7 separate regions of the Homo sapiens genome follow, and regions 2, 3, 4, 5, 6 and 7 are each reported to be linked to region 1. The links are microRNA targets in miRTarBase. Many come from high-throughput screens and were not tested one by one. Region 1 holds a microRNA gene; each other region holds the end of a gene's coding sequence.

What was found. Region 1 holds the annotated microRNA hsa-miR-6893-5p (CAGGCAGGUGUAGGGUGGAGC, at 2,838-2,858, opposite strand). A microRNA usually pairs through its seed, bases 2 to 8, with sites in the 3' UTR of a target mRNA and lowers its output. Matches are read on the target gene's strand: a 7mer-m8 pairs with bases 2 to 8, a 7mer-A1 pairs with bases 2 to 7 and ends in A, and an 8mer does both.
Region 2: miRTarBase lists FERMT2 as a target of hsa-miR-6893-5p. Seed matches in the 3' UTR shown: 7mer-A1 at 2,888-2,894.
Region 3: the mRNA of SLC25A45 is a reported target of hsa-miR-6893-5p. Seed matches in the 3' UTR shown: 7mer-m8 at 2,871-2,877 and 7mer-m8 at 2,619-2,625.
Region 4: the mRNA of SPAST is a reported target of hsa-miR-6893-5p. Seed matches in the 3' UTR shown: 7mer-m8 at 2,019-2,025 and 7mer-m8 at 1,886-1,892.
Region 5: the mRNA of NR2F6 is a reported target of hsa-miR-6893-5p. The part of its 3' UTR that is shown has no 7-base or 8-base seed match.
Region 6: the mRNA of POLR1G is a reported target of hsa-miR-6893-5p. Seed matches in the 3' UTR shown: 7mer-m8 at 2,770-2,776, 7mer-m8 at 2,640-2,646, 7mer-m8 at 2,478-2,484 and 7mer-m8 at 2,344-2,350.
Region 7: the mRNA of NAA20 is a reported target of hsa-miR-6893-5p. The part of its 3' UTR that is shown has no 7-base or 8-base seed match.

The regions. Positions count from the first base shown.
Region 1 is chr8:144,432,757-144,436,847 of GRCh38, forward strand. MIR6893 (microRNA 6893) reads right to left here and starts at 2,863; the gene lies at 2,795-2,863. TONSL (tonsoku like, DNA repair protein) reads right to left here. Exons shown (of 26, transcript NM_013432.5): 15 at 4,001-4,091; 16 at 3,802-3,925; 17 at 2,902-3,662; 18 at 2,718-2,794; 19 at 2,261-2,414; 20 at 2,055-2,133; 21 at 1,222-1,523; 22 at 832-1,003. TONSL-AS1 (TONSL antisense RNA 1) reads left to right here and starts at 2,412. Exons shown (of 6, transcript NR_109770.1): 1 at 2,412-2,684; 2 at 3,995-4,091.
Region 2 is chr14:52,854,836-52,858,926 of GRCh38, forward strand. It overlaps FERMT2 (FERM domain containing kindlin 2), which reads right to left. Exons shown (of 15, transcript NM_006832.3): 15 at 2,438-3,715. The coding sequence ends at 3,542. All of the region lies in intron 1 of LOC105370500 (a long non-coding RNA gene), which reads left to right. Among named protein-coding and RNA genes, the nearest start is that of GNPNAT1, 65 kb to the left of the region's middle.
Region 3 is chr11:65,373,094-65,377,184 of GRCh38, forward strand. SLC25A45 (solute carrier family 25 member 45) reads right to left here. Exons shown (of 7, transcript NM_182556.4): 6 at 3,725-3,983; 7 at 2,099-3,582. The coding sequence ends at 3,314. It also overlaps a transcript of FRMD8 not described here. Among named protein-coding and RNA genes, the nearest start is that of SLC25A45, 7.5 kb to the right of the region's middle. RefSeq lists an enhancer at 3,532-4,032.
Region 4 is chr2:32,154,082-32,158,172 of GRCh38, reverse strand. It overlaps SPAST (spastin), which reads right to left. Exons shown (of 17, transcript NM_014946.4): 17 at 536-3,799. The coding sequence ends at 3,677. Among named protein-coding and RNA genes, the nearest start is that of SLC30A6-DT, 9.6 kb to the left of the region's middle.
Region 5 is chr19:17,228,856-17,232,946 of GRCh38, reverse strand. It overlaps NR2F6 (nuclear receptor subfamily 2 group F member 6), which reads left to right. Exons shown (of 4, transcript NM_005234.4): 4 at 321-1,064. The coding sequence ends at 595. It overlaps OCEL1 (occludin/ELL domain containing 1), which reads right to left. Exons shown (of 6, transcript NM_024578.3): 6 at 3,728-4,091. The coding sequence ends at 4,022. Among named protein-coding and RNA genes, the nearest start is that of OCEL1, 4.7 kb to the right of the region's middle.
Region 6 is chr19:45,408,777-45,412,776 of GRCh38, reverse strand. It overlaps POLR1G (RNA polymerase I subunit G), which reads right to left. Exons shown (of 3, transcript NM_012099.3): 3 at 2,040-4,000. The coding sequence ends at 3,276. ERCC1 (ERCC excision repair 1, endonuclease non-catalytic subunit) reads left to right here. Exons shown (of 10, transcript NM_001983.4): 10 at 3,052-4,000. The coding sequence ends at 3,102. Among named protein-coding and RNA genes, the nearest start is that of POLR1G, 4.1 kb to the right of the region's middle.
Region 7 is chr20:20,032,684-20,036,683 of GRCh38, reverse strand. It overlaps NAA20 (N-alpha-acetyltransferase 20, NatB catalytic subunit), which reads right to left. Exons shown (of 6, transcript NM_016100.5): 6 at 3,029-3,582. The coding sequence ends at 3,497. It overlaps CRNKL1 (crooked neck pre-mRNA splicing factor 1), which reads left to right. Exons shown (of 14, transcript NM_001278628.2): 14 at 322-2,316. The coding sequence ends at 489. Among named protein-coding and RNA genes, the nearest start is that of NAA20, 17 kb to the right of the region's middle.

The DNA of each region.
Region 1 (4,091 bases):
GACCATTGCTGCCCCCCTTACACTCCCCCTGGATGACACCCAATTCCCAGCCTCTTGGCACTGGGACCCCAGTCTCTGCAGCCTGAGTGGGCTCACAGTGGAACTGCCTCAGGCGAACAGCACTCAGCTGGCGAGCACGGGATGGGGACCACAGGACACTAGCTGCCCGGACTCTGCTCTCGGTGTGTCCTGCGGGGGTCAGCCTGGCTGGGTGGGCACCAGACGCCCCTCGGAGGCAGACCCTGTACCCACACATCCATCTATTGCTCCCAGGTGCCAGGCCCTCCCGGAGAGCCAGGTCTGGCATCCCAGGCCCCTAGACGTTGTTTGTTTCGTTTTTTTGACACGGAGTCTTGCTCTGTCGCCCAGGCTGGAGTGCAACGGCGCGATCTCGGCTCACTGCAAGCTCCGCTTCCCGGGTTCATGCCATTCTCCTGCCTCAGCCTCCTGCGTAGCTGGGACTACAGGCACCGGCCACCACGCCCAGCTAATTGTATTTTTAATAGAGACGGCGTTTCACCGTGTTAGCCAGGATGGTCTCGATATCCTGACCTCGTGATCTGCCCGCCTTGGCCTCCCAAAGTGCTGGGATTACAGGCGTGAGCCACTGCGCCCGGCCTAGACGCTTTTTTCTTAAGGGATGGGGTCTCACTATGTGGGCCAGGCTTTCCTGGAACTCTTGGCTCAAGCGATACTCCCGCCTCAGCCTCTCAAGTAGCTGGGACCACAGGTGTTGCCCCTGTGTGCCCAGCCTGGGCCCCCTCTGAAAGTCCTGGAAACCCTCAATGCCCCAGGGCTAGGGAGTGGACAGGGAGTGCCTGGTCAGCTCACCTTGGAAAGCACTACCCAGTGCTGTCTGGTGGCTCAGAAAGAAGCTGGGGCCGAAGCCACACGCCTGCAGGCGCAGGGTGCTGAGTAAGGGGCAGGCGTGCAGGAGGGAGGCCAGGGACTGGCCACAGCCGTCCCCCAGGGGGTTCATGCTTAAGTCCAGCTCCTCCAAACTCTGTGGAAGACACAGGCTGGCAGTGAGCCCCCAGCAGTCCCACGGACAGGGTCCCCCTTGGGGCTTGGCTTGGCAGTCTCTTCCCCACCTTGCCTGGCATAGCCTATTACAGCCGGGCACTGGCTGGCTCTCCCAACTACCCTAGACCACCCAGGGACCTGCAGAATGGGAACCCCAACTCCCCGCTGTTGAGGGCCTGCTGCTCTCTGTGCCTATACCTGCAAGGTGGCTTGGCCTGGGAGCCCCATGGCAAGCTGGCGCAGGCCTTCGGGACCCAGGTGATTGGAGGAGAGGTCAAGGAGGGCCAGGCTGGGCATGGTGCCCAGGGCAGCCACCAGCTCAGCCACACACTTGTCCCCCAGCCGGTTCCCTGCCAGGCGCAGCTCCCGGAGTGCTGTGTGCAGCTTGAGGGCCCGCAGCAGGGGTGTAAGCTGGGCCTGGTCCAGGGCCAGGGAGCAGGCGCTGAACGAGAGGCCCAAGCCCTGGAGCTCCACGGCCTGCAGCACCTGTTGGTGCTCCCCTGCGGGAGGGATGTGATGTCACCAGGGTAAGGCCGGCCCTTTCTGCCCTCTGAATCCCAGAGGGCAAACCAGGCAGCCCCTTTTCAACAGCCCCAGGGGTCACCCACCAGACTTGCTGTAGAGCCCACTCGCACATGCCTGTGGGTCTAGCACTGTGAGGCCCTGGGGGCCGGGGTGGGTCTGCAGCACCCTGAGCTCCACCAGTCACTGCCAGATTCCACACCCCCCGGGACAAGCTTTCTGGGAAGCTTCCCCAGCAGCTCCCAGCCCATGCCAGGCCCTCCTCCTTGGGTTTGACTTTCCAGGCTTTCGGCTGCTTTTTGCCATCTCCCTGTCAGCAGATCATGGGGGCTGAGGGCTGTCCTCTCCCTTCCACCCACACATCCAAGTGCAGGACACAGCACCCACCAGGCTGGGGGAGGTGCACCCCAAAACACCCGAGGCCCAGGAATGAACCGGGCTGGTGGAGCCTGTGTGCCCAACCCCCTTGTACGACCTCACCCAGAAACTGCAGCTCTCCTGGCCCTCACCTTGCCCCAGGCTCTGGCAGGCCCTGCGGTAGCGGTCAGTCAACGGGGGCAGGTCCCACGAAGTCACCTCAGCCAACACCTGGAAGGCACCGTCATGAGCCACCTGGGGGCTCCCCCGGCTCACCTCATCATTGCTCTGCAGCCATGAGCCACCCGGGGGCTCCCGGTGCCTGAGGCCCTGGCTCCCCCTCCGCTCTGCGGCTCACCTCGTCATTGCTCTGCAGCACATCAGGGATGAGGTCCTGTGGGGCCAGCAGGGCCCCCTCTTTCCGTAGGGTGAGCCTGGGCAGCAGCCCGCAGGTCTGGTAGTAGCGCTGGGCCGCCTGCTCGGCCAGCCAGGCCACAGAGTGGGTGTCACTGCTGCAGGGACAGAGGCGCTGCTGCTGCTGCCTGCACACAGCCGGGGTAATGCCCCAGGGACCCGCCATCCCTGCCCAGGGCCAGAAGCCCCCTCAGCTGCTTCTCCCATTCCCAGGTAGCCGGCCCCTCCTCTCCCTGCAGCCCAGCACACCACCAGCCCCTCTGCTATTCCTGGGGGCCACAGGATCCTCCTGGAACACACCAGGGAGCCCTCGTCACACGCCCCACCCTGACATGCAAACACGAGCACCCTGGCATGGAGCTGCACAGGTGGGCTGCGGGGTAGGGCAGGCGATGCCTCACCTGTGTGGGACAGGGATGAGGAAGAGATGATCCTGAACTTGAACTCGAACCCGGATGGGAGGGGGCGGGGCCGGACCCTGGCAGGTGAAGGCAGCAGGGCTGAGTCAGGAGCCACAGTGGGCTCCACCCTACACCTGCCTGCCCGGAGTGGGGAGAGGGCTCTGCTCCAGGTCTGCATACCCACCAAGGGCTGGCCTGCCGCAGAGCTGTCCCCACTGGGCTCTGAGACCCTGGGGGTGCTGGGGCTCCCTGGAGGTTCTGAAGCCAGGCTGCTGGGCCCTGCGTTAACTGGCGCACTGCAACTCTGCATGCAGGTCAGGCGGACCTGCTTGGCTCGGGCACGGGGCCTGCTCTCCTCACTGTCCGACCCAGAGGTACTACTGGGCCTGCGGTTGTCTCCAGTGCCCCGGGGGCGGGGCCGGCGGCTGCGGGTCAGGGGCATGTCCAGCTCCAGCCAGTCCCCGGCCAGGCACTCCTCCTCCGGGATGAGCGCTGCCTGGGGGGCAAGGGCTTTGCTGTGGCCCCGCGGTGGGCCAGGCCCCAGCCGGCTCTGAGCACTGCCCACACCCCGGATGGCTGCCTGGTAGGCTGCCCGGCTGGTGCTGGCTGTGGCTGCTTCCCTGTTGCTGGCGGGGCCAGGCGTCCAGGCTGCCACCCGTTGTGCTGTGGCCGAGCACCGAGGCCTCTTCTGGGACGGCCGTGCGGGGCCTGCGCTGTCCTCGCCTTCTGAGCTGCTGCTGCTGCTGGCTGGCCCATGCCTGCTCCTCCGAGGCCTGGCCATGGCTGGTGCCGCCTGCCCTGGGGAGACCCTGACATGGGCCTGAGAGGCCTCTGGGAGTCTAGTGCTATTAGAGGGGGGTTCTGGGCAGGGGCTCAAAGGAGGAGAGGTCTCGGGGTCAAACAGAAGGCTGCTTGGGGTGTGGAAGGCCTGGGAGCTGTGGGGATCTGTGGGAGAGAGAATGCGTGTTGAGGCAGGGGCCCGGCACCTCCCGCTCCACCTGTGATGGAGCATCTCCCGAAATCAGGGCCCGGGGACTCTCAGCGTAGGCACAGCAACCCCAGGGACAAGGGACGCCCTGCTTGCCTTGGCCCGAGGCAGCCGCCTGGAGCAGCATCTCCATGGCCCTGGCCTTCTGCCGCGTCTCCAGGTCCAGGTCCCTGCGGTACAGCTTCACCCACTGCTGCAGCGTCTCCAGCGGGCTGAGGCCCTGTGTGGCATCAGTTGAGCAGGGGCACAGCAGCCCCCATAACCTCGCCCTTGCCCTCTGCCCCACCAGGCTCACCTTTCGAGTGCGGAGGGTGACGGACGCCCCCCGTTCAAGCAGCAGCTCAGCCACCTCGAAGTGGCCACAGTTGAGGGCATCGTGGAGGGGG
Region 2 (4,091 bases), not on the chromosome of region 1:
TGATTTAAGGGAAAGAATTGGATGGGAGCTAGGTTGGGGTTCTGTCACCAGTGCTTTCATGTCCAACTGAGCTTGAGTCACATGGAGCAGAAAGCTGAAGCTACGTCTCTGGAAGTCCCAGCTAGTATTCTAACAGACCTATGTTCTCTCTAGAGAGGTCACTACTAATAGTGGTCTCAGAATTCATGAAAGGTTTGTTTTTACTACTACTAGATAGGGATATGATTGGCCTTGGCAGTAATCATAGATGTGTGACTTTAAACAGGTCAATTGGCCTCCCCGAGCCTCATCTATAAAATGAAGAGGCTGAATTGTATGAATCCTTGAAAGAGTGAGTACTTAGCACGTTTCCTGTTGCATAGTTGGTGTCCAAGTTAGTTTGCTCTGTATTAAACTATACTGAGGCTACAAAAATTCTGAGTTCTAATAATAATTCCTTTGGTTATTTGGTTTGGTTAATAATTTGGTTATTTCCAAAATAACCATCATTATATTCAATAAACCCATGTGTAACTGATTCTAAGTAGAAACCATAGCACTAAGATCCAGTCCTCAAGGATGTAACAATTCTATGTTAGGGGCAACATGATATACTCAACCATAATAAGGACGATTACTCTTTAGTTCCACAGAAGGACCAAATTCAATGGCAGTTCAGGAGGAAGAGAGTTTTTGGCTGCAAGGAAACTTGGAAGTGTTTATGGAAGAAAGAGCACTTGAGTCTTTTGGTTTTTTTTTTTTTTGAGATGGAGTCTCACTTTGTCACCCAGGCTGGAGTGCAGTGGCGAGATCTTGACTCACTGTAACCTCCACCTTCTGGGTTCAAGCGATACTCCTGCCTCAGCCTCCTGAGTAGCTGGGACTACAGGTGCGCACTACCATGCCCAGCTAATTTTTCTATTTTTAGTAGAGACGGGGTTTCATCATGTTGACCAGGATGGTCTTGATCTCTTGACCTCATGATCCGCCTGCCTCGGCCCCCCAAAGTGCTGGGATTACAGGCGTGAGCCACCACGCCTGGCCTTTTTTTTTTTTTTTTTGAGATGGAGTGTTGCTCTGTTGCCTAGGCTGGAGTGCAGTGGCACAATCTCAACTCACTGCAATCTCCGCCTCCTGGGTTCAAGCAATTCTCCTGCCTCAGACTCCCGAGTAGCTGGGATTACAAGCATGTGCTACCATGCCCAGCTAATTTTTGTATTTCTAGTAGAGACGGTGTTTCATCATCTTGGCCAGGCTGGTCTTGAACTCCTGACCTCGTGATCCACCCACCTCGGCCTCCCAAAGTGCTGGGATTACAGGTGTGAGCCACCACCCCAGGCCCACTTGACCTTTTTCTAAAATGCTAGACAGATGAGGTGTAGACAGATACAAACTGGATGAAGGTCCAGGACTAAAGACATTCCAGACTTGGGGAATGATGGATGGATGAGTGCAAAGTGGAGAATGTGAGCTGCCCAGCTGGACTGGAATGCAGATTGTTGGGAGATAAGGATGAAAATGTGGGCTCGGAGACCATACAAAACCTCTGAGCACTTTACTTTGGCTTTTATCCTGTAGGCAATAAGGAGTCATTAGCGCTGAAATGCAGCTAGCGCTATGTTGGGGCTGGATTAATCTCAAGATCACTGGGAAGGCAGCGGGGCAAACCAGAGGTGTGGCAATCAGCACAGAGGCTACTCTCACTTGTGTGGAGGCCATGGGACTAGAAAGCACTTGAATAGGTGTGGTTTCAATCAAACATGTTTTGGGGCTTTTAATAAGTGACATGTAAGTTGGTGACTTGCACAGTCACTTACTAAAGATGAGGAAAGGGAGTATATTTTAAAATGTTTAGTGGAAAGGAGCTCTTAGATTTAGGAGCAAGGCCTGTTATGGCTTTGGAGTACAAAGAAAAGTCATGGAGAATGTCATCACAGCCTTGTCTTAAGATGGTGCCACACTACAGCAGGCACAGGACAAAGAACTGAATTTGGATGACGGTGACAGCAATGACAAGAGAAAAGATGCAAGGCTGTGTGAGGGGAAAATCAACAGGAATTGGTCTAATTACATGCAAAGGGTAAAGGACTAGAAATCTGAGTCTTGAATGATGACAGCAGTAATGACTGGGAGTAAATTCGTAAATGTATTTTTTTTTGTAAACCAAGAATAATTTTGTTATTTAAAACAAATTCTGCCACAGCCAACTTCTATTTATAAGTACATTTCTAACATTTAGATATTACACATTCATTTTTAAGTATTAAGAAAATGAGGGCTTTTCAATTGAGGTGAAAGACTATCTTTGAGATAAAGTATCTCTATCTGGCAACGCTGTGGAATACTAACCAGTTGTTCTCACAAAATAACATGCAGGCAAAGCAATTCCAAAAGGCAGAAGTTCATTTCTACTAAATTAATACTATGTAAACATTAAAAACAAGTACAAAAATAAATATTAAATAAAAGTTTTGCTTTTATTTAAAATAAAATGCATTTATACAGTCTTTGAACCATGGATTATTGAACAATACTGGTAATCCACCTCTCCCTCGCACCCTTTTGGGCTATGTGAGCTAGGAATTTTCTGACTAGCACCAATACAGATTGTAACAGCGCAACAGACTAGAACATGGCCAGTCCAGGCATTAGAGTTAAGGACATTGTGGCAAATCATGATCATAATGAAGTCATTCTTAATTTAGTAGATATTAAAACTGCACGTTAATTATATCTCTTAAAGGCATTTAATTAACGCAGAGATTGCTACATTTAAGCCATCTGCTAGTTGTGAGTAGTTTTTAAAAAACTGTACAATTTTATAAAATTTGTGTTTTTACATTAGTTACACAAAATGCATACTTCATAGAACTTTACTTCATATTGTAATGCAAAGAGTTGCATATTTTAGGCAGACAGTGATTATGCTGGTGAATACTAAAAGTGTAATACAATATGGTGTAAAAATAAAAACACGAGACAATATACATAACATGCTTATTCAAGGACAAAAACAAATCAAGCACGACGGACTAATAGCATTTTCCTTCAAGGTCAAACACAATGACATTACTAAATATCAGGCCTCCTGCATGCCTGATTTATTTGGGGGTAGGGGGAGGAATTAAATGGCTACCAGAAGTAGGATATTTTAAAACATGATATCAAATTAAACATACATTAAATCACATGCATTAGACATGATAAATAGAGTTCATATAGGTTAAGCCCTGGATAGCTTTAAAATAGATGGCTTGTTTCTTACAGTTTGGCTAGCTTAAATCAGTAAATCAGTGATGGTTTGTTCCTGATTTGCCCACTATTTCAGTTTTCAATTCATGGCCCTAAGGAATGTGTGACAAATTCAAGTTTATTATATCATAACATGATAGATTAATAGTCGTGCTTGTTTAGTGCACATATTAACTGGTCTGGTAAGGCAAAGAAGTTTTCATGATAAAATGATAAATTTCAAGCTTACTTTATTAAGCAGCATATAACAAACAGCTTTTAAAGTTAAATATTGTTATGGCCGTGGAGTTTCATTAAACAGTATTCCTATTCACACCCAACCACTGGTAAGTTTGTAGAACATCTCTTCATCTAAACTCTCGTTTTGGTCTTTTGCACGTGTTGAGAGAAATATGTAGCCACCAATGAATTCATGAACCACTTTGCAATCTACTTCAGTACAAATGAAGGACAATCGTACTTCATCTGCAAACTCTACGGTGACCTGGAACAAAGACAAGAGCCATCAGTGCTGTCCCAAATGCTAGGTGGCTGGGTCCACACAAAACTACTGTGCTACTTAAAGTCTGTCATATCACAAAACACTTGTTGATCCTCAAATGATCAGTCTGTCTAAAACCTAAACGAATAATGCCTTTAAGTCCCAAAGAAGAAGCTAAGTTTATTGCCCTTCCCCTACACTTTAAGTTTTCATGTTCTGAAAAGGAAGACTAGGAATGCAAGGGTTTTAGGTCGTTCAGTTCTCAAATGGTCTCTGGTGATTGATTCAATTAATGAGAATGCCTCTCTTCAAGTCGTGCAGGAAAGCCTACTTCCTGTGTTTTAACGTTCGCTTCAGATACTTAAATTTTAGGTATCAC
Region 3 (4,091 bases), not on the chromosome of region 1:
GTACAAAAAAATTAGCCGGGCATGGTGGCATGCACCTGTAGTCCCAGGCAGGAGGATCACTTGAACCCAGGAAGCAGAAGTTGCAGTGAGCCGAGATCGTGCCACCGCACCCCAGCCTGGGTGACAGAGCAACACACCATCTCAAAAGAAAAAAAAAGGGATCACAGAGGAAACTGAGGCACAGGAAGGGCAGTGCCTGCCTCAAGGCACCTGGGAACCGGCCTCAGGTGGACCTTGTGTTTTCCATAGGAGGAGCAGAGACTGCTAGAAACTAGGAGTTCGAGTCTCTTCCACCATACACCTTTCTCAGCCCGAAAGGGCAGCACATTCCCACGATCAGGAGCCCCCAGAACACCGATTCTTAAACTTTAGCATGTGTAGAAATCCCTGGGAGAGCTTTTCACAACACAGATTCCTGCGCCCCATCCTCAGAGATTCTGATTTGGTAGGTCTGGGGTGGGGCCTGAGATGCTGCATATCTTTTTAAAAATTATTATCATTATTATTATTTGAGACAGAGTCTTGCTCCATCACCCACGCTGGAGTACAGTGGCGCAATCAAAACTCACTGCAGCCTCAACCTCCCAGGTTCAAACAGTCCTCCCACCTCAGTCTCCCAAGCAGCTCTGTCTACAGGCACAGTGCCACCACACCTGGCTAATGTTTAAATTTTTGGTAGATACAAGGTCTCACTATGTTGCCCAGGCTGGTCTTGAACTCCTAGCCTCAAGTGGTCCTCCTGCCTCGGCCTCCTAAAGTGCTGTAATTACAGGTGTGAACCACTGTGTCTGGCCAGATGCTGCATTTCTAATAAGCTTTGCTCCATGGACCACACTTGGATTACCACTGACTTAGAAACTCACAGTACCTTACCCACTGAGTCAGGATGAAGCTTGCTAAACTGTTGCAACAAGGGCCTAAACTGTTGCAACAAGGACAGAGCCAGGTGCCTCACGCCTGTAATCCCAACGCTTTGGGAGGCCAAGGCGGGTGGATCACATAAGACCAGGAGTTCGAGGCCAGCCTGGCCAACATGGTGAAACCCTATCTCTACTAAAAATACAAAAACTAGTTGCAGATGGCCTCCAGCCATCTGCAGCACATGATCTGGTGAAGGAGAGCTCTGATGAGCACGTGACGTAGTATGGTCCCGGCAGGTCTAGCCCAGGGTGGTGTGGGGGGAGTTGAACTTAGGTGACTCGCAGAAGACCCCCATGTGCCCAGGTGGAGCAGGGTAGCCATGTGCCCAGGTGGAGCAGGGTAGCTAAGTAACTGGACACTGCGGCTGGAAGCTCAGAGGCATCTAAGCAAATTGTATGATTTACCCGCGGTGTGACCTAGGACAAGTTACATAATGTCTCTGAGCCGAGGCTGCCTCTCTATCAACTGTGATCATAACACTGTGATTGTTTCTACAGGGAGCCCCCAGTAAATGGCAGGAATTCAGGTCACCATGAGGTGGACTCACGTTGATCTCAGACCAGATAGGGACATTAGTGGGTACAAATGGCCCTTGATGCTCAATTTTGTTGTCAGTTAAAAGAACCCTCTCAGCCAGTTTTTAATTCCCACTGAGCAAGTGAGATGGGTAAAGAAAACAACAGTGGCTCACACCTGTAACTCCAGCTCTTTGGGAGGCCAAGGTGGGAGGGCTATCTGTGCTCAGGAGTTCAAGACGGCCTGGGCAACATAGTGAGACCTCCTCTCTACAAAAAAATTAAAAATTAGCCAGGTGCGGTGGCACACACCTGTAGTCCCAGCTACTCAGAAGACTAGGGTGGGAAGATCACTTGAGTCCAGGAGTTCAAGGCCACAGTGAGCTATAATGGCACCACTGCACTCCAGCCTGGGCAACAGAGTGAGACTCTGTATCTAATAAAAGAAAAAATAGAGAAAAAGAAAAAGAAAACAAGCACCATTGGCTGGGAGTGGGCAAAGCAGACAGACCCCCAGCTCCCAGCATCCTCCACTGCAGGTGACCTCGAGAAGGGTCAGAGCAGGAAAATGGGGGCTGGGAGGTTCAACAGAAAGCTGTGTGGCAAGACCAGGGAAGCAGGTGTGGCAGCTGGCGTGAAGAGACAGGTCAGGAGTGCAGTCGCATCATTTAACGAGCATTTATTGCACACGTCTGTTCAAGCACCAGGCTCAGGCTGGAAACCATCCAAAGCGCAATCCCTGACCTCAGGCAGCTCACAGTCCAGTGGGGAAGCCGAGAAGCAAATTAATGACTCTGAAGAAGCGCAGGCAAGTGCTATGATCAAGGCATGTGTGTGGGTAGGGTGTCTGGGAACCCCAAAGTCAGCCTCAGGTGGGGAGGTAAGTCAAGGAAGGGTGAGGGGACTGGGCTCAGCCTGGGTCTCGGAGGAGAGCGGGGCCAGCCCCGGGGATGGTAGAGTCAACCTGCCAGGCACTGTGCACTGCTGGCCAGGCCCGGCCAATGAGAGCACAACTTGTTCAGGGTCCAGGAAGCAACCCCAGGAGAACAAAGCCTCGTGGGGAGGGAGGAACCTGGAGGGTGGAAGGAGTTTGGGCTTTTCCTGAAGGTGATGAGAGCCACTGAAGGATTCTGGGGGAGGAGACATAGGGTTATCCTGGGTCATGGGGGAGAGAGCTTTGAAAGGCAGGGAGGTGGGAGGCCGCAGGGACTCTCAGAAGTGGAGTCTCAGAGCTCCTTAAGAGGTGAAGGCAGCCGGGCGCGGTGGCTCACGCCTGTAATCCCAGCACTTTGAGAGGCCGACGCGGGCGGATCACAAAGTCAGGAGATCAAGACCATCCTGGCTGACATGGTGAAACCCTGTCTCTACTAAAAATACAAAAATTTAGCTGGGTGTGGTGGCGGGCGCCTATAGTCCCAGCTACTTGGGAGGCTGAGGCAGGAGAGTTGCTTGAACCCGGAAGGTGGAAAGGCGGAGGTTGCAGTGAGCCGAGATCACGCCACTGCATTCCAGCCTGGGTGACAGAGAAAGACTCCATCTCAAAAAAAAAAAAAAAAAAAAAAAGAGGTGAAGGCACAGGACAGGAGCTGGGATGTCACCAGCACCACTTGCCAGCTCACTTGTGCCTCATGCTCCCTGTTTCACAGATGTGGGAGGCAAAGGAGTCAAGGCCAGCTACACAGGGAGGCTGCACAGGCCCCCTGGCTTCCGGCTCCCACAGGTGTCTGCCCAGCCCAGATCTGCGCGGGTGGGAGGCACCTTGGTTAGGAAGGGCTGAGCCTCTTGCACTGATTTGCAAGCTTTCAACCTGGCCTCCAATCTCAAACTGGCCTCCAGGCCGTGGGCCTGATGGGGAGCTGCTGGCATTGCCGCAGGGCTCATCCCCACCAGCGGAGGAGATATTCGTAGCTGAGGAAGGTGACAGCATTGACGGGAAAGGCGCGGGCACTGTTGATGGTGACCCCCCGGAAGAAGACTCCCAGTCCTTCCTGCCGGATGCTGCTCACCATGCAGTCCAGCATCCCCTGGTACACTCTGCGTCTCAGTCCATCCATCTGCATCCGGGACTTGATCATGTCTAAGGGCGTGGCTGCCACCCAGGAAGCAATGCCTGCAAAGCCCCCTGCCACCAGCACCGTGGCTGAGCCTGGGGCAGAGAGAGCCCAGAGCAGGGGTCAGACCCAGAACAGAGCATCCTCCCCAGACCCTAGTTTCCTTCCCCAGTCCCCGCTGGACCCTGCCTGCTACCCACACCTCTGTCCCCCATCCTCTCACGCCACTTTACTTACTGGGATTCTGGCCTTCTGGTGTGTACTGGCGACAGAGCCCTTCATAGGTGATGAAGTAGATCCCCACCGTGGGGGTGTCCCTCAGCGTCAGGGCCCAGGCTCCTCGGAACAGCCCCCGGGGCCCCTCCTCCCGGAAGATGGAGGCTGCACAGTGCACGGGCCCCTGGTACCGGGGTGGGGGGCTCCCTGGCTGGGCCCTTGGCTCTGTCTGGTTTTGTAGCCGGACTTTGATGAGGTCAAAAGGAGCCAGACAGTAGGCCTGTTGGTGATGAAACATGAGGGCCCCGGGTGGGGCTTTGGGCTGGGAACTGGCCCCTTATATTCACAAGAGGAAGGAGGCAGGCAGGGGGCCACATCTTCCAGTCCC
Region 4 (4,091 bases), not on the chromosome of region 1:
GCCCTATGGGTAAAAGCTGGTTAAGGTGAATCTCGTTTACTTTTTATTTTTTGAGACAGGTTCTCTGTAACCTGGGCTGGAGTGTGGTGGTGTGATCTTGGCTCACTGCAACCTCCTCCTCCCGGGCTTAAGCGATCCTCTAACCTCAGCCTCTTGAGTAACCGGGACTACAGGTGTAGGCCACCAAACCTGGCTAATTTTTAGTTTAGTTTTTTTTTTTTTTTTTTTTTTGGCAGAAACAGGGTCTCCCTATATTCCCCAGGCTGGTCTTGAATTCCTGAGTGTAAGCGATTCTCCCATACTGGCCTCCCAAACAGGCATGAGCCACCACACCCAGCCTGAATCTCTTCCATTATAGGACTTTGCAGTTTCTACCTTGTTTTGATTGCTCTGCAGAGCCACCCAATCATTGCTTTCTATATTTTGTTAAGCGTTTATAATTGTTACTAAGAGTCCAATACACACAACTCCTTCATTATCAGACTCCAACCCCTAAAATATCAAAAAGTTTTAAAGTAAAAAAGTAAAGACAAAATAAAGTTTATCATTTATTTCCAATACATTAGGATAAAAACCCACTTTATGCAACTGTACCCTTTAATTCATTTCTTCTGAAGAAAAGTACAAAAGACCAGACTAAAATTGAGACAAGCATTTAAAGGAAAATCCTTTGACTCAGAGTCCAAAACCGAACTGTAAATGGTTCATTTTACCAAAAGAATTAGTTTTTGTACAAAATATAAAGAATTCTACACTATAAACAAAGACGGCTGTATATGTAATTAAATTAGAATTCTAGTATCTGCTTTTCCTCTAATTCTTCTGGAGTACAAACATATTTGCAAGTCAGAAATCTAATATTCTCAATGGACAGACTGTCTTAGAATAAGCTTTTACCCTTAAGATATCTGGAAAGATAGTACTCATTCTTTCCCTTGGCTCAAAGTCCAATATATCAGTAAGTTTTAATTTAGTTTACAAAACTCTGCCATATTAACATGAAGAGCACACTAATGCTTAATGTTTAAGCATTATCTTTTAGGAAGTAATACAACACAGAGCTCAACACCGAATCTAAAAGGTCACAATCTAAGTCATTATTAATTCAGAAAACTTCAGCAACTTCTATCTTTATTGAAAAAGACCAAACCAATCCCTTATCTCCTACTATATCATTACTCTATTTTCATGGCCCTTCTATCAAAGAAACAGCTTAAAATAAAACTTGGTTAGAGTTAAGTCATAGAAAATAGTTCTCTAGCACTAGCTGAAGTTCAGACTTGATCAGGAAAGCAACTTCTATACAGTAATGATTTTCTGACTCAGTGTTTAAGATAGTATTAACCTGACTTTTATCTCTTTTAACATTTGAAATCTTTGTTATCTAAAAGTCTTTCCCAATAGAATTATAACCATGATAGTTTTAAAGGAGACAATATATTAAAAGTTGAGCTGGAACCACATAGTCCTTTAATATGATTAGCCAGTTATCCAAGTATCAATAACGTTAATCTTTTAAATGAAAACAATGAAATTTTATGAGCTTAACTGAAATGTCTTAATTTAGAACTTCTCAATTCTTTTCATCATATATATTTCATTACTACCTTTCGTTATCAGTATTTCATAATTGATGTTGTAATGTTTGAGACCTTAAAGGGATACTACCCATCACCTAACATATGCATAGCTCTGGCTTGAAAAAAATTTTTTTTCCCCTATTTATCTCAACTCTCATTTTTATTATTCAGGGAGTTCCAAAGTCATGATTGGAAGAGACATGATTTACCTTATGGCTACAAACAGCATATGATCCTAAGAAATCATGCATCTTCTGGCTGGGCGCAGTGGCTTATGCCTGTAATCCCAGCACTTTGGGAGGCCGAGGCAGGCGGATCACCTGAGGTCAGGAGTTCAAGACCAGCCTGACCAACATGGAGAAACCCCATCTCTACTAAAAATACAAAATTAGCTGGGGTAGTGGCGCATGCCTGTAATCCCAGCTACTCGGGAGGCTGAGGCAGGAGAATTGCTTGAACCTGGGAGGCGGAGGTTGTGGTGAGTCGAGATTGCGCCATTGCACTCCAGCCTGGGCAACAAGAGCGAAACTCTGTCTCAAAAAAAAAAAAAAACCCAGAAATCATGCATCTTCTATATTCAAACAAATCTTTAACAAGAGCAAGAGTAAAATTAAGAAGAATGTATGTCTTCATTATAAAGTTCTTACCTAGTAGGGGCAAGTTTTTTATTTTAATGTATTCTTTCAAAACCTAAGAAATCTTTCCTAAATGAAAAATTCTTGTTACTACTACAAATATTCTTTCCACTCATGACATTTTACATAGCATCATTTAAGCACCAGAGAAAAGTTCTGTAAACAAACTTTTAACCAGTAAACTAAGGGCAAATATCTATTTGCCTTTATTACAATATTTAAAAGGCCATGATATGAGTCTCTACTCCCTACAATGACATTTTTATAATGAAAATCCAGGCATATTTATACAAACAAATGGAATTACTGTACATTTTGGGAGAACAAAAGGCAGATCAACAGACTAGAACTAGAACTTTTGAGTTAATAAAGCAAGCAGAAGGAACTAGAAAAATGTATGCCATGTATAAAAATTCAGTTTTTTTAAAGTTTCATTGAAGGGATTAATAATTATTAAGAATAAAAGATGGTAGTTCCACTTGCTTATAATTATCCTGTAAAATTAAGAAAGTAATAAGCAATAAATTAGAAATGTCTTAGTTCCTAGTATTTCCCTTCTCTTGCACTGGAAACATTTTCACAGCAGTTAAAATTGGCTCTCTTAAATATCAGAATAATTCTTGCAGAAAATAAATTCCATCAGGAAGAAGTTAACAGTCTACAACAGATTTCTGACAAATACATTAGAAAAAAAAATACTGCAGGTCACATGAAGACTGATCTACATGTTATATGACAGAGTAACTCAAACCTTCAAACCTTCTCTATTTTACCATATTTGCTTTTTTGCTATTATATTGCTATCTAAACTGTTTGGTAGCAAGGTAATAGAAAAATAAAAGGTAAAAAGAACACAACAATTGTTTAATGTCTGTAGATTTATGAAGAAGAAACTCTCAAAATAAACTTTTTCCTATTACAGTTACTTAGGAAAAAAGTTTCATTTGGCACACTGAATTTATAAAACGAAAAAAGAAAATAAACTTAAGAGTGTTTGGCATTCCAATCACCTGTAGTTAAGACAACAGTAGAAAAGAAAAGTAGGAGAAATTACTATTTTAAGAAAAAACATCAGAAGACAAACAAACAAATGTTCTTGTGTCTTCTACCATTCACTGTTCCTGGAATACTTTCATCTGCAACACAATATACAAATTATTATTTACATTATGATTATATTGGTAAAGAAGACCAGAATCAGGTTTTGTTGTGCTCTAACTTAGTGTCCATTGGGATAACTGTGACCATCAAGGCAAGGCCTTAAACAACAAAAAATTACATTTGCATTGTATATTTTGTTTAAGTCTGTTTTCTGGTTCATCTTCAAGTTTGGTGCACAAATATGTAAGACTCTAAAAAGTCCTGTAAACTTAGGCTGTTTCTGTAGCCGATGACGTTCATTGAAGATCTTGTGTTTCCTCTTTTAAGTAAAATGTTCTGCAGGTTTACAAAGGTATTTCCTTAAACAGTGGTATCTCCAAAGTCCTTGTTCCAACGTATGTACGCTTCTAAAGTTTGAGGGCTGACGCTGCGTTTTATTTTTTTCAAGGATTCAGTGAAGTCAGATAATCGAATATTTCTCATCTAGATTTTTAAAAAGCACATGACAATACAAATGATCAACAGGTATATGGTGGTTAACGAAATGATGGATTAAAGTAATGATGCTGCTGTTTCTTAATGTTATAAAAAATATACGTGTATGTATTCTTAGAAAATTATGTCAGCCATTTAAATATATTTTCTATGTTGATCTGCTACACAAGAAACCTTAATAAATGCTATACTAATATATTTATTACTTGTGTTTAGTTTCATAGGTATTAACATTTGAAAGCATAATATTTTTCCAATATAAAAACAAAACACAATCATT
Region 5 (4,091 bases), not on the chromosome of region 1:
TGAACTCCTGACCTCAAGTGATCCACCTGCCTCAGCCTCCCAAAGTGCTGGGATTACAGGCGTGAGCTACTGTGCCCAGCCCCAGCTGATTTGTTTTTGCAGAGAAGGGATCATACTATGTTGCCCTGGCTGGTCTCAAATCCTGGCCTTAAATGATGCTTCTGCCTTGGCCTCCCAAAGTGCTGGGACTGTGGCCGTGAGCCATCATGCCCGGCCCCCTGTTCTTACCCACAGTGGCGAGTGGTGTCCCCTAGTCACCCCTGTGGGCTCTGTGTTCTCTAGCTGCCTCCCACCTGTCTGACTTGCCTTTGTCCCCCTAGACGCCTGTGGCCTCTCAGACCCGGCCCACGTTGAGAGCCTGCAGGAGAAGGCGCAGGTGGCCCTCACCGAGTATGTGCGGGCGCAGTACCCGTCCCAGCCCCAGCGCTTCGGGCGCCTGCTGCTGCGGCTCCCCGCCCTGCGCGCGGTCCCTGCCTCCCTCATCTCCCAGCTGTTCTTCATGCGCCTGGTGGGGAAGACGCCCATTGAGACACTGATCAGAGACATGCTGCTGTCGGGGAGTACCTTCAACTGGCCCTACGGCTCGGGCCAGTGACCATGACGGGGCCACGTGTGCTGTGGCCAGGCCTGCAGACAGACCTCAAGGGACAGGGAATGCTGAGGCCTCGAGGGGCCTCCCGGGGCCCAGGACTCTGGCTTCTCTCCTCAGACTTCTATTTTTTAAAGACTGTGAAATGTTTGTCTTTTCTGTTTTTTAAATGATCATGAAACCAAAAAGAGACTGATCATCCAGGCCTCAGCCTCATCCTCCCCAGGACCCCTGTCCAGGATGGAGGGTCCAATCCTAGGACAGCCTTGTTCCTCAGCACCCCTAGCATGAACTTGTGGGATGGTGGGGTTGGCTTCCCTGGCATGATGGACAAAGGCCTGGCGTCGGCCAGAGGGGCTGCTCCAGTGGGCAGGGGTAGCTAGCGTGTGCCAGGCAGATCCTCTGGACACGTAACCTATGTCAGACACTACATGATGACTCAAGGCCAATAATAAAGACATTTCCTACCTGCACAGCCTCCCTGGTCTTTATTTTTATTTTTTATTTTTGAGACGGAGTCCTACTTCGTCACCCAGGCTGGAGTGCAGTGGCGTGATCTTGGCTCACTGTAACCTCTGCCTCACAGGTTCAAGCGATTCTCCTGCCTCAGCCTCCCCAGTAGCTGGAACTACAGGCACCCACCACGATGCCCAGCTAATTTTATTTTTGGTAGAGATGGGGTTTCACCATGTTGACCAGGTTGGTCTCGAACTCCTGACCTCAGGTGATGCACCTGAGGCCTCCAAAAGTGGATTACAAGCGTGAGCCACTGTGCCTAGCCTCACTTACTTTCTTTTGGTCAACCTTAATCTTTTTTTTTTTTTTTTTTTTTTTTTTTGAGATGGAGTTTCGCTGTTTCACCTGGGCTGGAGTGCAGTGGTGCAATCTTGGCTCAGTGCAACCTCTGCCTCCCGAGTTGGAGCAATTCTCCTGCCTCAGCCTCCTGAGTAGTTGGGATTACAGGTGCGCACCACCACGTTCAGCTGATTTTTGTACCTTAACTAGAGGGGTTTTGCCATGTTGGCCAGGCTGGTCTCGAACTCCTGACAGGTGATCCACCTGCCTTGGCCTCCCAAAGTGGTGTGATTATAGGCATGAGCTGCCGGGCCCTTAATCTTGTTTGGGCTCCAATGTCCTTGGGAGAAACCTCTGGGGCCAGTCCTGTCACATGATGTAAGGCGAGCCAATCAGAGACCACCATTCCCTGGGCCACAGCAACTGGTTTATGGAGGCCCTGGGATGCCAAACTAGCCAGTGAGATTGCACGGTGGGATTTGGAACTGGGAGAATCTAATTAAAGCAGAGCCAAGGATGGAAGATCAATTTCCCAAGATGCCTTTGGAGCCCCAGATCAAGCCATACCTGAAACCCTTGGGTGTTTTAAGTTCTGTGAACTCAGTCTCCCCCCTTTTGTGCCTGAGTCAATCTGACTTCAGTTTTTTTTCTCACATGGAACTAAAAATCTGTTTCAGAGATTGACGTTTGGGAGTCAGGCACCTACAAGGCCAAGACTTTGAAATGTGGGCTTCACTGGGTTGATACGGAATCATGTGGGGTACCAGGGACTCTCCCGTCCCAGCCTCGGGAGTGTGTGGCACAGCTCTGTGGTGGGAAAGGCACCTGTGGAATTCAGCACCAGAGCTGTAGGGCAGAGAGAAAGGGCCCGAATGGTGGTGGGGGTGGCACCTCTCACTGATGTCCTTCTGTAGCCAGGCGTGGTGGCAGGAGCCTGTAATCCCAGCTACTCGGGAGACTCAGGCACGAGAATCACTTGAACCTGGAAGGCGGAGGTTGCAGTGAGCTGAGATCGCACCACTACACTCCACTCTGGGCAACAGAGGAAGACTGTCTGAAAAAAAAAAAAAAAAGAAAGATGCCCTCCTGAAAACAGCAAGGGAAGAAGTCAAGTCTGTCACGCTGCCTGCTGGGCCAGTGCTCAGCTCTTAAGCAGCCCCAGTTTGCCAAAATGCTCCCTAGTCTCCCCATGTCCATCTTGAAGAAAGCCTTGGAAGACGAGAGATTAGGCCCCTCCTGTGGAGTCAGTGAGGGTTTCTTGTGGGCACGTTCCCAGAAGGGAACTGAGGCAGGGGCGGGATGGAGAGGACACCAGGTTCTCGTTGAAGGCTGCACTGGGTTTTGCATTAGGTCAGGGTCTCTCCATGGTGTCCTGTGAGTGAGTGGGTCCATGTCTACTCCAGTCAAACTGGACAGCAAGGTCTCATTTATCCAATGCACAGGACATCTGAGGGTTGAGTGAGACCATGGTGTCTGTCCTGCTGTTTGGCCCCAGGCCAGAGATCTGGATGTCTGTCCAAGGCCTGACTGCTGAACTCCTACTTTTCCTACAAAACCCTACCCACATGGCCCTTCCTGCGGGAAGAGATCTTGAGCCTCCCTGGCTATTAAGACTCTGCTGTGCAGCCTTCTTTTACTGGACTCAGGGCTATCTTCCCCAGACTAGGGCCTTCTTGAGGACAATCGTGGTGGCCCAGTGGTTGACGCTGTCTCCCCTGCATGTAGTTGGTCTTCCTGGTTGCTTCTTGCCCCTGTGGCTCCCTTGGGAGACTGAAACTCAGAGGACAGCTTCTGGTCTGCTGTTACATGGCTCCCACAGGGAGACTGGCCCCACCTGTGCCCCACCCATCACAGCTAGGGCCTGGGATGGGTCAGACACTGGAAGAGCCTCCCCCTAGGCCATGCATATGGACCGTGCCCACACACTGGGGTCAGTTGCTGTCCTGAAGTGCCCAGGGAGACACAGAGAGTGAAGAATCCAGCTGGACGTGGTGGCTCATGCCTGTAACCCCAGCACTTTTGGAGGCTGAGGTGGGCGGATCACTTGAGGTCAGGAGTTCCAGTCCAGCCTGGCCAACATGGTGAAACCCCGTCTCTACTAAAAATATGAAAATTAGTTGGGCATGGTGGCAGGTGTCTGTAATCCCAGCTACTTGGGAGGCTGAGGCAGGAGAATCACTTGAACCGGGGAGGCGGAGGTTGCAGTGAGCCAAGATCGTGCCACTGCACTCCAGCCTGGGCGACAGAGTGAGACACAGTCTCAAACAAAAACAAAAACAAAAAACAACTTTTTGTGTGTGTGACAACTGAGTGAAATCAGAAGTGTTAAGTAATTATACTCAGTAGGTGTCTAATACATGTTTATTTCACTGGGATGGAGAGCAGGCCCTACTTCCAGGGAACAGGTTGAGATCTGGAGTCCCTGTAGGGTCAGAGCTAGAGGACCCAGAGGAGGAAGTCCTGGAAGGCCTTCCTGGAGGAGGGGCTGTCAGAGCTGAGTCCAAACTGAAGAGGCATTTGCAATCCAGGAGAAAGCGACCCCTGGTAGGGGGAGCTGCAAGAGGAAAAGCTGAGAGATACCAAGAAATGCAAGGGACCTGCATCCCCATGCATCCCTCTGCCCATCTGCAGGGGCACTTAGAAGTACACGGAGCCCTCGCTGTCTCCTTGGTCATCGAATTTCTGGATCTGAGTCTTGAGATGCCTC
Region 6 (4,000 bases), not on the chromosome of region 1:
TAAGAGTGAAACTCTATCTCAAAAATTAAAAAAAAAAAAAAGAATAAAAGGCTTCTGCACAGCAAACATTCCACAAAGTGAAGAGACAACACACAGGATGGGAGAAAATATCTGCAAACTAACCATCTGACAAGGAATCAATAATCAGAAGATAAGAGTTCTAACAACTCTATAGGATAAAATATAATAATCCAATCAAAAAGTGGGCAAAATATTTGAATTAACATTTCTCAAAAGACATACAAATGGCAAGCAGGCATATGAAAAGGTGCTCAGCATCATTGATCATCAGAAAAATGCAAATCAAAACTACAGTGAGGCTGGGTGCAGTGGCTCATGCCTGTAATCCCAGCACTTTGGGAGGCCGAGGCGGGCAGATCACTTGAGGCCAGGAGTTCAAGATCAGCCTGGCCAACATGGCGAAACCCCATCTCTACTAAAAATATAAAAATTAGTTGGGTGTGGTGGCGCATGCTTGTAATCCCAGCTACTTGAGTGGCTGAGGCAGGAGAATCTCTTGAACCCGGGAGACGGAGGTTGCAGTGAGCTGAAATCACACCACTGCCCTCCAGCCTGGACAACAGAAGCAAAACTCCATCTCAAAAAAAACCAAAAATAGGCCGGGCATGGTGGCTCACGCCTGTAATCCCAACACTTTGGGAGGCCGAGGCGGGTGGATCGTGAGGTCAGGAGATTGAGACCATCATGGCTAACATGGTGAAACCCCGTCTCTACTAAAAATACAAAAAAAAATTAGCTGGGTGTGGTGGTGGGCACCTGTAGTCCCAGCTACTCGGGAGGCTGAGGCAGGAGAATGGCATGAACCTGGGAGGCAGAGCTTGCAGTGAGCCGAGATCATACCACTGCACTCCAGCCTGGGTGACAGAGTGAGACTCCATCTCAAAAAAGAAAACCAAAAACCAAAAATAAACTATAATGAGATACCATCTCAGCTCTATTAAAATGGCTTATTATTATTTTTTGAGATGGAGTCTCACTCTGTTGCCCAGGCTGGAGTGCAATGGCATGATCTCAGCTCACTGCAACCTCCGTCTCCTGGATCCAAGCGATTCTCCTGCCTCAGCCTCCTGAGTAGATGGGATTACAGGCACTCGCTACCATGCCCAGCTAGTTTTTGTATTTTTAGTAGAGATGGGGTTTCCCTAGGTTGGTCAGGCTGGTCTTGAACTCCTGACCTCTGGTGATCCACCCACCTCGGTCTCCCAAAGTGCCGGGATTACAGGTGTGAGCCATGGTGCCCGGCCTTAAAATGGCTTTTATCCAAAGGACAGGCAATAACAAATGGTGGACAGGCAATAACAAATGGTGGCGAGGATGTGAAGAAAAGGGAACCCTCATATACTTTTGATGGGAATGTAAATCAGTACAACCACTATGGAAAACAGTTTGGAGGCTCCTCTAAAAACTGAAAAGTTGAGGTTCCACATGATCCAGCAATCCCACTGCTGGGTATATCCCCAAAAAAAGGAAATCAGTGTATGGAACAGGTATCTGCACTCCTGTTTGTTGCAGCACAGTTCACATTGCCAAAACTTAGAACCAACCTGTGTCCATCAGCAGATGACCAGGCAAAGAAAATGTGGTACTTACACACAATGGATACTCTTCAGCCATAAAAAAGAATGAGATCCTGGCTGGGCGCGGTGGCTCACACCTCTAATCCCAGCACTTTGGGAGGCCGAGGCGGGCAGATCACTTGAGGCCAGAAGTTCAAGACCAGCCTGGCCAACGTGGTGAAACCTTGTCTCTACTAAAAATGAAAAAATGAGCTGGGTGTGGTGGCGCGTGCCTGTAATCACAACTACTTGGGAGGCTGAGGCAGGAGAATCGCTTGAATCCGGGAGGCGGAGGTTGCAGTGAGCCAAGATTGTGCCACTGCACTCCAGCCTGGGCGACAGAGCGAGACCCTTTTCAAAACAAAACAAAACAAAACAAAAAAAACATGAGATCCTGTCAATTACAACATAATGAACTGGGGATTATTATGTTAAGTGAAATAAGCCAGGCACAGAAAGACAAACATTGCATGTTCTTATTTATTTGTGTATCTAAAAATCAAAACAATTGAACTCATGGAGATAAGAGTGGATGGATAGTTCCTGGAGGCTGGGGAGGGTAGTTAGGGGCTGGCAGGGAGATGGGGAAGGTTAATGGGTACCACACACACACACACACACACACACACACACAAAGAAAGAATGAATAAGACATACTATTTGATAACACAACCAGGTGACTATAGTCAATAATAATGGTACATTTTAAAATAACTTGGCAGGGTGCGGTGGCTCACACCTGTTATCCTAGCACTTTGGGAGGTCAAGGCAGGTGGATCACGAGGTCAGGAGTTCGAGACCAGCCTGGCCAATATGGTGAAACCCCTGTCTCTACTAAAAATACAAAAATTAGCCGGGTATAGTGGTGGGCACCTTTAGGCCCAGCTACTCGGGAGGCTGAGGCAGGAGAATCGTTGGAACCCAGGAGGCGGAGGTTGCAGTGAGCCAAGATCACACCACTGCACTCCAGCCTGGGTGACACCAGGAGACTGTCTCAAAAAAATAATAATAACTTAGCCAGGCGCAGTGGCTCACACCTATAATCCCAGCACTGGGAGGCTGAGGCAGGCGCATCAGGAGGTCAGGAGATCGAGACCATCCTGGCTAACGTGGTGAAACCCCATCTCTACTAAAAAAAAATACAAAAAATTAGCTGGGCAGGGGCCTGTAGTCCCAGCTACTCAGGAGGCTGAGGCAGGAGAATGGCGTGAACCCGGGAGGCGGAGCTTGCAGTGAGCCGAGATTGCGCCACTGCACTCCAACCTGGGCGACAGAGCGAGACTCCATCTCAAAAAAAAAAAAAATAATAATAATAATAATAACTTAAAAAGATTGTAACTGGATTGTTTGTAACTCAATGGATAAATGCTTGAGGGTATAGGGGAAAATAAAGAACCAAAACCCCACTCTAGATTTACCCAGGAAACAGCTCCTTTAATGACTGGTTCCTCATTTTTTTCTCCCTCCCATCCAGGCCCGGAGGCTGTTTGATGTCCTGCACGAGCCCTTCTTGAAAGTACCCTGATGACCCCAGCTGCCAAGGAAACCCCCAGTGTAATAATAAATCGTCCTCCCAGGCCAGGCTCCTGCTGGCTGCGCTGGTGCAGTCTCTGGGGAGGGATTCTGGGGGTGTCACCTTCTGGTGGCCCAGGTGGGCACCTTCAGCTTTCTTTAGTTCCTCAGTTTCCCGGGGGCAGACTACACAGGCTGCTGCTGCTGCTGCTTCCGCTTCTTGTCCCGGCCTGTGGGAGCCTCCTCCCCAGACTCTGAATTCAGTGGCGGCCCTGGCATCTCCTCTTGGGGCACTGTCTCTGGCATCCGGCTTTCCTGACTCTGCTTCTTCCTCTTCTTGGTGGATCCCGGAGTTGCCCTGGCTTCAGGCTGTCCCTCCCCTGGCAGTTCAGGCTCTAGTGGCTGAATTGGCTCAGTCACTGTGTGACCTCTCTCTTTCTTCTTCTTCTTCTTCTTGGTGGATGTGGGAGCTGCCTGAGGCTCAAGGTCATCCGGCAGCTCAGGCCCCACCACCTCTGTCTCTGGCTCCACTGTGGCATCTTGCTGTTTTTCTTTCTTCGTCTTCTTTTTGGGAGCTGCCAGAGCTGCCTGGGCCTGAGGCTTCGCTCCTTCTGGCTGTTGAGGCGCCATGGTCCCCCCTGGGGACTCCAGAGGCTTCATCTCCGGCTCCACTGGCTCCATCGCCTCCGTCCCTGGCTCCATCATTGCCATCTGTCCCTTTTCTTTTTTCCTCTTCTTCGTAGGGGGCAGAGGGATGGCTTCCTCCAGTGGCTCCACCTTCACCTGTGGCTGAGACTCAACTGTCACCCCCTCCTCTGGCTCCATCCCTTCCGTCCCCTTTTGCCTCTTTCTCTTTTTGGTCGGGGACAGGACTGTGTCTTCTAGAGGCTCAGTGTTAATCTGTTCCTGCT
Region 7 (4,000 bases), not on the chromosome of region 1:
TATTATGTAAAGATCGTTAAACGTTTTCTTAAGTGTAAGACTGCACAATGTAGTTGGAGACACTGAACATCTTGGTTGGCTATAGAGGAGCTGTGCTTAGATTTTTAGAATGTTTTTCTACCAGTTTAGTTCTCACTGAGCTACAGTTGCTGCTTACTCACTCCCAGTCTTTCAGACCCAGCCCTTGTTCTTTCTGTAGTAGACTTTGATGTTATTTTGTAAAATGGAGGTAATCATCCGGATTTCCAGTAAAAATTCTTCACTCTGATATGTGAGTATATCACCCACGTTTGCTTATCTTTTCATTTTTTATTTCTGTAGTCTGATGCAGGCTGGGAAGAATACTTTGATTACATCTTTCCAGAAGATGCTGCCAACCAACCTAACCTCAAACTCCTGGCCATGGCCAAACTGTGGAAGAAACAGCAGCAGGAAAAGGAGGATGCTGAGCACCATCCAGATGAGGACGTCGATGAGAGTGAATCCTGATCTTTTTTTCATAGACAAATGTTTTGTTATTTTTATAAATTAATTGTTTGGAACTCTTGTGACTCCTGGAAGTTCTTATATATTTCACCAGTAAGAAATTGATTGGTATCTTTGATGGCTACTTTTTAAGTTATTTTTTAAATGCTCTTGGGTTAGCTAGGGGTAGGGATTGCAAGTAAAGGACTTTTTTAACTGCTGGATTTGTTTTTCCAACTGAGTCCAAACTTTTCTAATGTCTGTCCACATCATGCATTAGGAAATGTAATTAAGGTAACATTCTACAGTTACTTTTCATGTCATACCCATAAAGATAGTTTATGCATTCATCTGAAATGTGTAACTTTTTCATGTCTTCAGAGTCACAGACTTGAGTTCATTTCCCAGCTCTGCCACTCATGATTATATAACTTAATTTTCATTTTCCTCATTCACAAAATGGGCCAATAGTTTGACAGCTCATTTTGAAGATTACATTATAAAAGGAATATACCTGGTGGGTGCATAGTAAGTGCTCAGTAAATTGTTTGTTCTAAGCCACTTTTAAAAATGGTTTCATTCCTTGTAGAATTGAATGCGAGTGGATTAATAATTTACCTTACTTTCTTACTAGTGTCCAGTTATATTGTTTTTTAGAACAACACTTGGAAAATAATTTGCAGTGATTATATTTCTGAACAAGGTTCAGAAAACATTGTTTACTAAGAATTTAGTCTAATAATTTCAGTTAGGCGCTCATCAGTTCTCCAGAGTGGTTGAGTTTGTAATACCTTGTTTAAAGAATAATGGCTTGTTCACGTGTGTGCTATGAAAAATGATGTCCCATGTTCACATAAATTTGGGAAATTCTGGACTAAGACTTAAGTCTCGTTAATCAAATCTCTTTATAGTTAGGCTTCTGTACATTATGTATCTCCAGTAGCAATGTTGCCATATTATTTATTTCCCAAACTTAGTGGACAATGGAGTCATTTCTACCTAGAGTACCAGTAAACATCTCCCAGTGTGCTATAGTAGAAAATGTCTACTCCTCACTGCTGACATGTTAAACTTACTCTTGGTTTAGAGCATGTGTAGAAACACCTAAGGTAGCTCTATGCTAAATAATGAAGAGTAGCACAAGAATGAATGTATTTGCTGATACGTTGCTCACATTCTCAAGCAAAAATTCAACTGCATTAACCGATCTGAGAGTTTTCCTTTAACCTGGACTGTGTTTCTCAAGCACATTTTTTCTTTGTTCACTGCCCAAGGACTAGAACTGTATTTTTAAGGTTGTTTTCCCCTAAAAGGACCTTTAGTAAGCAAATTTATTATTAAATGTGCACATCTTATTCACCCAAGGGAATAAAAGCTACTTCGTAATGTTGTTACTAAATTTTATCTTGAAAATAAATAACAGTGTTTGAGGACAGAAGAAACTAGGACTGTTGTTGAGATAAAATCTGTTTTCAGCCTGACTGCTTTAGTCACTGGACGAGCATCAGCTACTGCGGTGTCAGATCACTTCTCGAGTAGAGGTCTGCCTAGTGAGTGAGCAGGAGAACATCATCTTAATAGCCTTTGGCTCACCCAGAGTCAGGGAGAGATGAAAATAATAGGTCAGAATGCAAGTGACTTAATCACAGTCTTCCTAGAATTATCTGTTTATGTTGCATGAATGCATAAGAAAAAAATTCTGTCATGTTCCCAAGGTAGAATTGTAATAAGCATGTGCCAGTGTGAAAGCTGGAAGGAAAAAAGCTATTCTCTAACAGGAGAACATAAAGATTCATTTCTCTCCCACCCTCAACTCCACCAAAGTAAATCCTTTCGATAGTAAAAGTTTAATAATTTCTTGTGGGTTTTTCTTTCGTTAAGTCTTTCACTAACTAACTAACTGGATATTTTCACATATTACAGAGGAAGACACTACACATAAAATACATGGTTGGCCTATGATATAGTTATATGGCCTTTCTTTAGGAATTATGTTCTTTTCCCTCTCCAAAAAAAAAAAAAACCTCAAGTTTTTTTTTTTTTTTTTTGGCTTTTTAGAAGGGCAGGATTTAAGCAAAGCATTGTGAAGAGGAGAAAAGATCTAGGACTAACAAACAAACAGTATAATGGTATGAACGCAGGTGACTGGGAAGAATTTACTACACGATAAGAAGGGAGCTTCTTAAGTATGCTGGACAGTGATTGCTTCAAGTGTGCATTTTTAAAATACTACGTATGGAAGTCACAATTTAATTAAACGTATCTTAAATGATGATGACCTTTCACAATCCTGATTTTTTTTTTTTTTTTTTTTCTTGAGGCAGGGTCTTACTCTGTTGCCCGGGCTGGAGTGCAGTGGGACGATCTCAGCTCACTGCAACCTCCACCTCCAGGGTTCAAGCAATTCTTGTGCTTCAGCTTCTGCATAGCTGGGATGCCCAGCTAATTTTTGTATTTTTTTTAGTATAGATTTTGGCCAGGCTGGTCTCAAACTCCTGACCTCAAGCAATCAGCCTGCCTTGGCCTCCCAAAGTACTGGGATTACAATCTGATTTAGTTTTACAAATGACTAACAAACTTCAGAAAACATTCATAGAGTCAATAATGTATTATACATCTTAGATTTATACATTTCATATATGCTTTTAAAGCTTCAATTAACAGTTCAATACAAAATTTAAAAACAAATATATGCAGCAGTGGTTCTCAGGCACAGAACTGAGGAGGAGACTGGAGCAAGTCTTTTCCCTAGCATACATACAGTGAATACTATGAACCATGAGAGTGGTATGTTTCCTTCTGACCTAGCTGCCTTTTTGATTGAATTTTGTTACAATGAACAGCTTTAATAGGTATGATATTGCTAACTGGAAACAATGAGATTTAAAATAAATTGATAACCTGTATTTTCTTGAAGTCTTTAAGACCTAAAATGATTACTTTTCTCCTAATAGAGCTCCAGAATCATCCAATGAAAATAATATTGTCCATAAAGCATCTAGAGTATCTGCCTAAGAACCACTGCCCAGGGTTATTCAATGTCTTCAGGCCTCACAGGATGAGGTAATGGTATGATGGATTTCTTCTCAGTATCCCTGGAAAGTGCTTTCCTCATATCTGTAAAGAAGCAAAGTTTAATATAAACACCCAAAAAATGTATTATATCAAATGTAAAGTGTATAGGTAAAGTTCCCATAAGAGGTTTTATCCCTACCCCCACTTCACCATATTCTAAGCAAAATGTATTTATAAATGTCTCCCAATTGCCAAGTGTACCAGATGCTAACCAGACCTCACCCAGTATTCAGCTCACAATACACGTTTTCTTGTTAGCAAAATAATATGTATGTAACAGAGTGAAACAGTAAGGTACAGAAATTAACCATTGGTTAGTTAATAGGTAAGTTAATTACTACTACTAATAGGTTGATAAAGGTAGGTTGAGGGAAATTTAAATTTTAAAGTCAAATATTCTACATTTATTAAAATAATCAAATACTACAATCTGTAGAAAGAATGTAACTGTTTCGACTTC